Homo sapiens: one gene and its partner. The protein of the gene in region 1 purifies or fractionates together with the protein of each later gene. This does not show direct contact. Each region holds a gene or a part of one and is shown on either strand. Other genes may lie near its edges.

What was found.
Region 2: the proteins of POLR3H (region 1) and POLR3B purify together in Homo sapiens (affinity purification with mass spectrometry; 8 studies listed by BioGRID and IntAct, with this or other methods). This does not show direct contact.

The regions. Positions count from the first base shown.
Region 1 is NC_000022.11:41,537,971-41,541,470, forward strand, and holds part of POLR3H (DNA-directed RNA polymerase III subunit RPC8), read right to left. Parts: intron 2,826-3,500; coding exon 2,729-2,825; intron 1-2,728.
Region 2 is NC_000012.12:106,360,748-106,364,247, reverse strand, and holds part of POLR3B (DNA-directed RNA polymerase III subunit RPC2), read right to left. Parts: intron 379-3,500; coding exon 346-378; intron 1-345. UniProt on the Homo sapiens protein: Catalytic core component of RNA polymerase III (Pol III), a DNA-dependent RNA polymerase which synthesizes small non-coding RNAs using the four ribonucleoside triphosphates as substrates.

The DNA.
Region 1 (3,500 bases):
TTTTTTTTTTTTTGAGATACAGTCTCACCCTGTCGCCTAGGGTGGAGTGCAGTGGCACAATCTCAGCTCACTGCAACCTCTGCCTCCTGGGTTCAAGCGATTCTCCTGCCTCAGCCTCCGGAGTAGCTGGGATTACAGACATGTGCCACCACACCCAAATAATTTTTTTTTTTTTTTTTTTGAGACGGAGTTTCACTCTGTTGCCCAGGCTGGAGTGCAGTGGTGCGATCTCGGTTCACTGCAAGCTCCGCCTCCTGGGTTCACTCCATTCTCCTGCCTCAGCCTCCTGAGTAGCTGGGACTACAGGTGCCTGCCGCCACACCTGGCTAATGTTTTGTATTTTTAGTAGAGACAGGGTTTCACCGTGTTAGCCAGGAGATCTCCTGACCTCATGATCTGCCCGCCTCGGCCTCCCAAAGTGCTGGGATTACAGAAGTGAGCCATCGTGCCTGGCTTTTTTTGTAGTTTTAGTAGAGATGAGGTTTTGCCATGTTGGCCAGGCTGGTCTAGAACTCCTGACCTCAGGTGATGCACCCGCCTTTACCTCCCAAAGTTCTGGGATTACAAGCGTGAGCCACCACACCCGGCCGCAACTTGACTTTTTTCTCCAAGTTTTTCTGGAAGTTCTAGTACCTATTACCACTTGTCTCCTGGACAACCAAGGCCCCTGTCCAAATGCGGAGACTGGGCTCAGCTCGGCATCCTTCTCTGTAAACAGAGGCCCTCGTGGTTGTTTTCACACTGCAATCTTATTTCTCTGCTAATGAAAATGCTCCTAGTCTGTACAAAGACAGCCTGTTTCTTCGGCCTCTCGGCGTACCATGGTAACATCCATGCGAACTAATTAATTCCCTGAATGGCTGGACACAGACACTAGGCAGTCTCACAGCATACTCTGGAATGTTCTGGCATCTCTGTGCTGAGAGGCTGACCAGTATGGACTACAGCAGGGCTTATCCAACATGAGCTCGTGTGACAACCACCTGGTACCTTGTTAAAACAGTCTTTGGGGCTGGGGGCAGTGGCTCACGCCTGTAATCCCAGCACTTTGGGAGGCCGAGGTGGGCGGATCACGAGGTCAGGCGTTCGAGACCATTCTGACCAACATGGTGAAACCCCCTCTACTAAAAATACAAAAATTAGCCAGGCGTGGTGGCACGTGCCTATAATCCCAGCTACTCGGGAGGCTGAGGCAGGAGAATTGCTTGATGCTGGGAGGTGGAGGTTGCAGTGAGCCAAGATCACACTTCTGCACTCCAACCTGGGCAACAGAGCAAGACTCTGTCTTAAAAAAAAAAAAAAGTATTTGGACCCATCCCCCAAGATTCTGACTCAGGCGGAGGGAGGCCTGGGGCAGGCTGAGAATTGCGCTCTGAGTGCCCAAGGGATGGCAGGCTTGGCGCCTGCGCTCTGGGAGCCTGAACCGTCTCAATGGGCCTCTCACCATCTCCTATACACTGGTTTGGTCCAGACATGAGAATGAAGAATGCCCCTCTCCTGGGGCTCATCACCTCCCTTGACTGGTGGTCCTGGCTCCTCTCAGGGTGGTCCTCTCTCTACTCCTCCCTCCTTCCAGGATCTGGTGATCACCTTCCATTCCTGGATGCACACCCTTTTGCAATGTGACTGCAGTTTCTCCCACCCAGAGGTGAAGTCTATTTCTCCATCCCCTCACCCTAGCCAACGGGATGGAAGCAGAGGCTTGAGAAGTACTTACGCACTGAACTTTGGAACCTTAAAACCGCCAAGCCCAGCCTGGCCTACTGAAAGATGAGACCATGTGGGGCAGAGATGGGCCAGCCCAGCCCAGGCCCCCAGTAACCAACCAGTCTGCCAACCTTCAGAATGTGAGACCGTCCTAGATTGTCCAGCCCCAGGCCAGCCAGATGAGAGGAAAACCACCCAACTGACCGACAGAATAGGGAGAAACAATCCACGCTGATAAGTCACTGAGTGCTCGTTAGGTGCCAAGGCTCTGTCCTAAGAGCTTTCATGTATTAACTCCTTAATCCTCACAATGGTCTTAGAATATAAAATCTATCCTAAACTGCAGTTGACATCCTGAACTGCAACTGACAGATAAGGAAGCAGAGGCACAGAGCAATGACATATTCAGCCAGGACACACAGCTAGTAAGAAGCAGAGCTCAGCTTTTAATCTTGAGGCCACACTCTTACCTACTGTGTCCTACTATCCAAGTCCCCCACCCCCAGCCAGCCTGCTGATCCCCCTTCCGTCTGCTCTCCACAGGCAGCGGGAAGCCCGAGGAATGGACAAGGTGCAGGGCTCAGTAGCAATGAGACCAAAAGGGCACAGACACAGAGCTATGAAGTCAGAGCTGAAGAGGCCTTGAAAACCAACTAGTCCACATCCCAGGCCTCACAGATGAGGGAACAGAGGCCCAGAGAAGAGAAGTCTGCCGCTGTCACCGGGTCAATTCCTGGCCGATTCAGGATGAGGCCCCACGTCTCCCAGCCTCCAGGACTCCCACCACCCTCTGGCCATCTCTTTGACTTTAGCCTTTTAAAATTTTTTCATATTTTATTTATGTATTTAAAGACAGGGTCTTGCTATGTTGCCCAGGCTGGCCTTGAACTCTGTGGCTCAAGAGATCCTTCCGCCCTCAGCCTTACAGGCACGCACCACTGAACCTGGATTTGGCTTGACCTTTGGCTACAGAAAACTGAGCCCCAAGAAGCCCAATGCCCCAGGGACAGAAGATACCCACCTTTGGTGTGTGATGCGCCATCCCCAGGGAATACATAGGCATCCTCCAGTTTGGTGATATCAAACAGACAAATGCAGAGTCCCACGTTGTACACGACCTGCATGCATACAAACACAGACACACAAGTACACATGGATACAGAGTGACCACAGGCCCAGCTCCCAGGCAATCTGAGCCCCTCACAACCACAAGCAAGCCATGATTATCTCCTTTTTTAGGTGAAAATGAGTTTGTGGAGGGGACCAGGGTAAGGAACCTCAGAAGGATGCAGAGCTCTGGAAGGAGCAGGGCCTCGGGTGACAAAACAGGTCCAGGTTCCAAGGCCAGCTCCACCACCCACTGTGTGACTGCCAAGAGGGTCACTTCACCTCTCTGAGCCTCGGTCTCCCCATCTGCAAATGTGAAATACCAGGCTGCAGAGTTATAAAATAAAGAGAGATAACAGATGTGAAGCCCCTAGCCTTGTACCTGGCTCGTGTATTGGAAACCATCATCATCAAGGATCTTTGTTATTACTAGTGAGGACCAGTGACAGGAATGCTGCCTAAACGTGCACTCTCCGACATCCCAAAGCCAATGCCAGAGCTCACAGTTTAGTGAGCGTCACAGCCACAGCTAAACCCCACTGTGCTCACAACATCTCAGACACACAGACGCAGCCACAGGGACTGCAGCTGGCAGAGGGACACAAGACCTAGGCCCCAAGAATGTGCAGAAATCCCATGCCCTCACCCCACACCACTGTGGTTCAAACGACTGGCTACTCAGTGTC
Region 2 (3,500 bases), on another chromosome or scaffold:
CCCAGCTTTCAGGCTTAAACCTTCTTCTCTTAAGATGTGGTTTATGTCTCACTTCATTTGGGTGGCCCTCTCTGACCATTGCTCTTTTGCTGATAGCACTTTGGTTTTTAATCATGTGCCATGCTACTGTGCATGTACTACTACTTCTCTCTAAAATTAGACTACCACTCTCCAAACCAGCACCTTTCAGGCAGGGATTTTACCTTATAATTCCTTGTATTTCCAAACACAGCTATACAAAATCAAAAAATGTTGATGACAAAAATTTAATCTTTAAAAAATGGCTTATTTCTTGACTTTTTCATCTGAAAAATAACCAATTATTATTAAATGTGAAACAATTACCTTTAAAAATGCTGGAAGCAGCCTCCATTTTTCCTGTGAGCCAAAACAAGAAGAATATCAGAACTCTGTACCAGCAACAGTACTTTCATAAGTTATTTTAATGTTCCAAAATAAGCAAAGGAAAGTAAATCAAAACAAAAAGAATAATTTTTAAACATTTTTATGGAAATCACATGTGTGCATATGCATATAAATATGTATACACATACATACATACACTACAGGTTTCCTAAACAGAATATAACTTAATCTCTTCCTGATGACTCAAGATTTTAAGCACTTTTCAATCCTTTATTTTATTCTCATGACACTTCCTAAGTGAAGTTTGCCAGTTTGAGAAAAGGAAAATAAGGCTCAGAGAGTCTGGTGGGAGAGCTGGGTCTCAAGACCCAAAGGGAGTTCTTTCTCCCTCCCATTCTCTCTCAACTACTGTCTGGTCAGAGCTCATCTCAGGGCTACAGAAGGATGACACATATGGTGATTGCTTCCTACATTGCCTGAGCAACTAGAGGGATAGAGTTAAAATTGATGGAGGCGAGGAACATTGTAGGAATAGCAGGTTTAGGTGTGGAGGGGCTACTAGAAATTTGGTTTGGGTGTGTTAAGCTTGAGATCTCCATTAGACATTCAGGTGGAAATGTCAAGGAGGCAACAAATGAGTCTTGAATTCGGGAATGGAGTGGCCTGGAGATATAAACTAGGAAGAGATTAACAAGTGGATGGCAATTAAAGGCACGTGATGGATGAGATCACCTATGGAATGTAGATGGAGAAGAGTTCCACAAAGTGAGACCAACCAAGAATAATCCAACAATCAGAGAGGAGGAGCAGGAGGCAGCTCCAGCAAAGGAGACCGAGGAGTGGCCAGGGAAGGTGGCAGACCCCTGGGTATAGTCAAAAACAAGAGAGGCAGGCAAAGCTAATCTATGATGACGGAAATCAAAAGGTGCTTGGGGGGATAGACTGAAAAGGGTCATAAGGGAACTTTCTGGGGTGATGCAATGTCCACATAGAGCACATAACTATAAAACCAATGTAACTGAATATCTAGTATCCATACATTTTATTATATAAATTACACCTAAATTTAAAAATAGAAGAATGACAATGATATAGGTTGAATTGTGTCCCTCTCAAAATTCATATGCTAAAGTCCTAATCCCCAGTATCTCAGAATGTGACTGTTTTTGAAGATGGGGTCTTGACAAAGGTGATTAAGTAAAATGAGTCATTAAGGTGAGCCCTAATCCAATACAACTGGTGTCCTTATAAAAAAGGAGAAATTGGACATAGAGATGCACACAGGGACAATGCCATGTGAAGATGAAGGTAGAGGTCTCAGTGAAGCTTCTGCAAGCCAAGGGATGCCAAAGATTGCCAGCAAACACCTGTAGTAGGGGACGGCCCAGAGCAGATCCTCTCTCATAGCCCTCAGAAGGAGCCAGCTCTGTTGTCACCCTGATCTCAGACTTCTAACTTCCAGAACTATGAGAAAACAAATTTCTGTTGTTTAAGCCACCTAGTTTGTGGTTACTTTGTTACGGCAGCCCTATGAGCTAATACTCCCACATCTTCAAATTCCTCTCTCTACACCCCTTCTTATACTCGTTTCCTCCCACTTCAAAGGAAGGACCATCCATTCCTTGGTCTAAGGCTAACCCTTCCGCCACAGACACAATCCTGCCAACCTTCTCCTGAAGACTGGAAACCTTGCCCCAGTTCAGTCCTTGATATTCAACCTGTTCTATTTAAAACGAGTATTCAAATCCTCCCATTAAAAAAAAAATTTAAAACTTTCTTGACTCAGCAGCTCCTCTGACTACTTTCTTCCCTGCCCTTCAGCTTACGATCTCTCCCAAATTACTCCATATTTAGCTTCTCTGTTCCTCACTTCCCACTCCTTCATTCCGTTATAGTCAGGACTCTGACCTACCTGCCAGTGAAAGAGCTCGACAGAGGTCACCAAGGCTGCTACTTCAAAAGACCTCCCTTGATGCCCCCTCACATTCCCTTTCCACAGTATTTGGCCATGCCGATCACTGTCTTATAACACTCTGTGGTATCATTCTCTTATGTCTTTCCTTCCTCCGGCCGGGCCTTGTCACACCTCTTTTTCTCTGCCACCCTGCAAATTTTGGTGTTCTTCAAAGTTCTATCCCTGGCGATGTCTTTTCTCAAGTAGGGCTGGGAATGGAGGATTTCAAACAACACTGTTTGAAAGTGTTGTTTAGCTTCCCCCATCTCATCCCACAGCCCCCCAGTTCCAAATGTGGGCTCTTTCAAGGGCAGTGACCCTGTCTATCCTGTTACCACAGTGCCTGGCACATAAAAGACTCCAATAAATACTGAATAAATAAATGAGTGAGTGAATATCACTGTTGCAGTAAGCTACTGGGTATGGGCCTGTCCCCTCCAACTATTGACTGGGCAGTGATACCTTACAGCCTCAGAGGCTACTTAAGATCAGTATGTCCAAAATTAAATCTTCCCCCAGCTCCATTCTCAATCTCAATGAATATCACCATTTATCCCAGTCAATCCCAAATTAGATACCCGGGAGTCCTAACTTTCTGACTCTTCTTAATCAACAGGAAAACAAAAATTCTACTGAGTCGACCTCCTTTTAACCTTCCTCGCATTTATCCTCTGCTCCTGTGCCAGTTGAGGCCCTCATAATCTTTCAGCTGGTCTGCGGCAATACTTCCTTACTACTCTTCCTGCTCGTCCCTTTCAATGCTCAGCACTAAAGCCAGTGTACATGTCCTCATGTGCACAGCTGAGCACCTCATTCTCTACAACTCTTCAGTGCCTCCCCACCCTCTTCACCATGTCTTAACTCCACAGCGAGGCATACATCATATGCTGTGCTTGCAGCTGTACTTGTGCCTACGCCTCCTCCTTCTATCTGGAATGCTTCCGCACCACCACACTTCATCCACATCTGGCAAACTCAGTTCAGGCATCACATCCTAGCTACCATTTGTAATACCAAAATACCCCTCGCCTACTTGTATCACAGTACCTATTGCATGTTATTCCACTTGCTTACACGTCTCTCTCTATAAGCCTATAACACACTGGGAGGCAGAAAACACATTTTTTGAACTTGTATAAACCCTGTGAATAATACACCACCAGGTAAGTACTCAGTAACA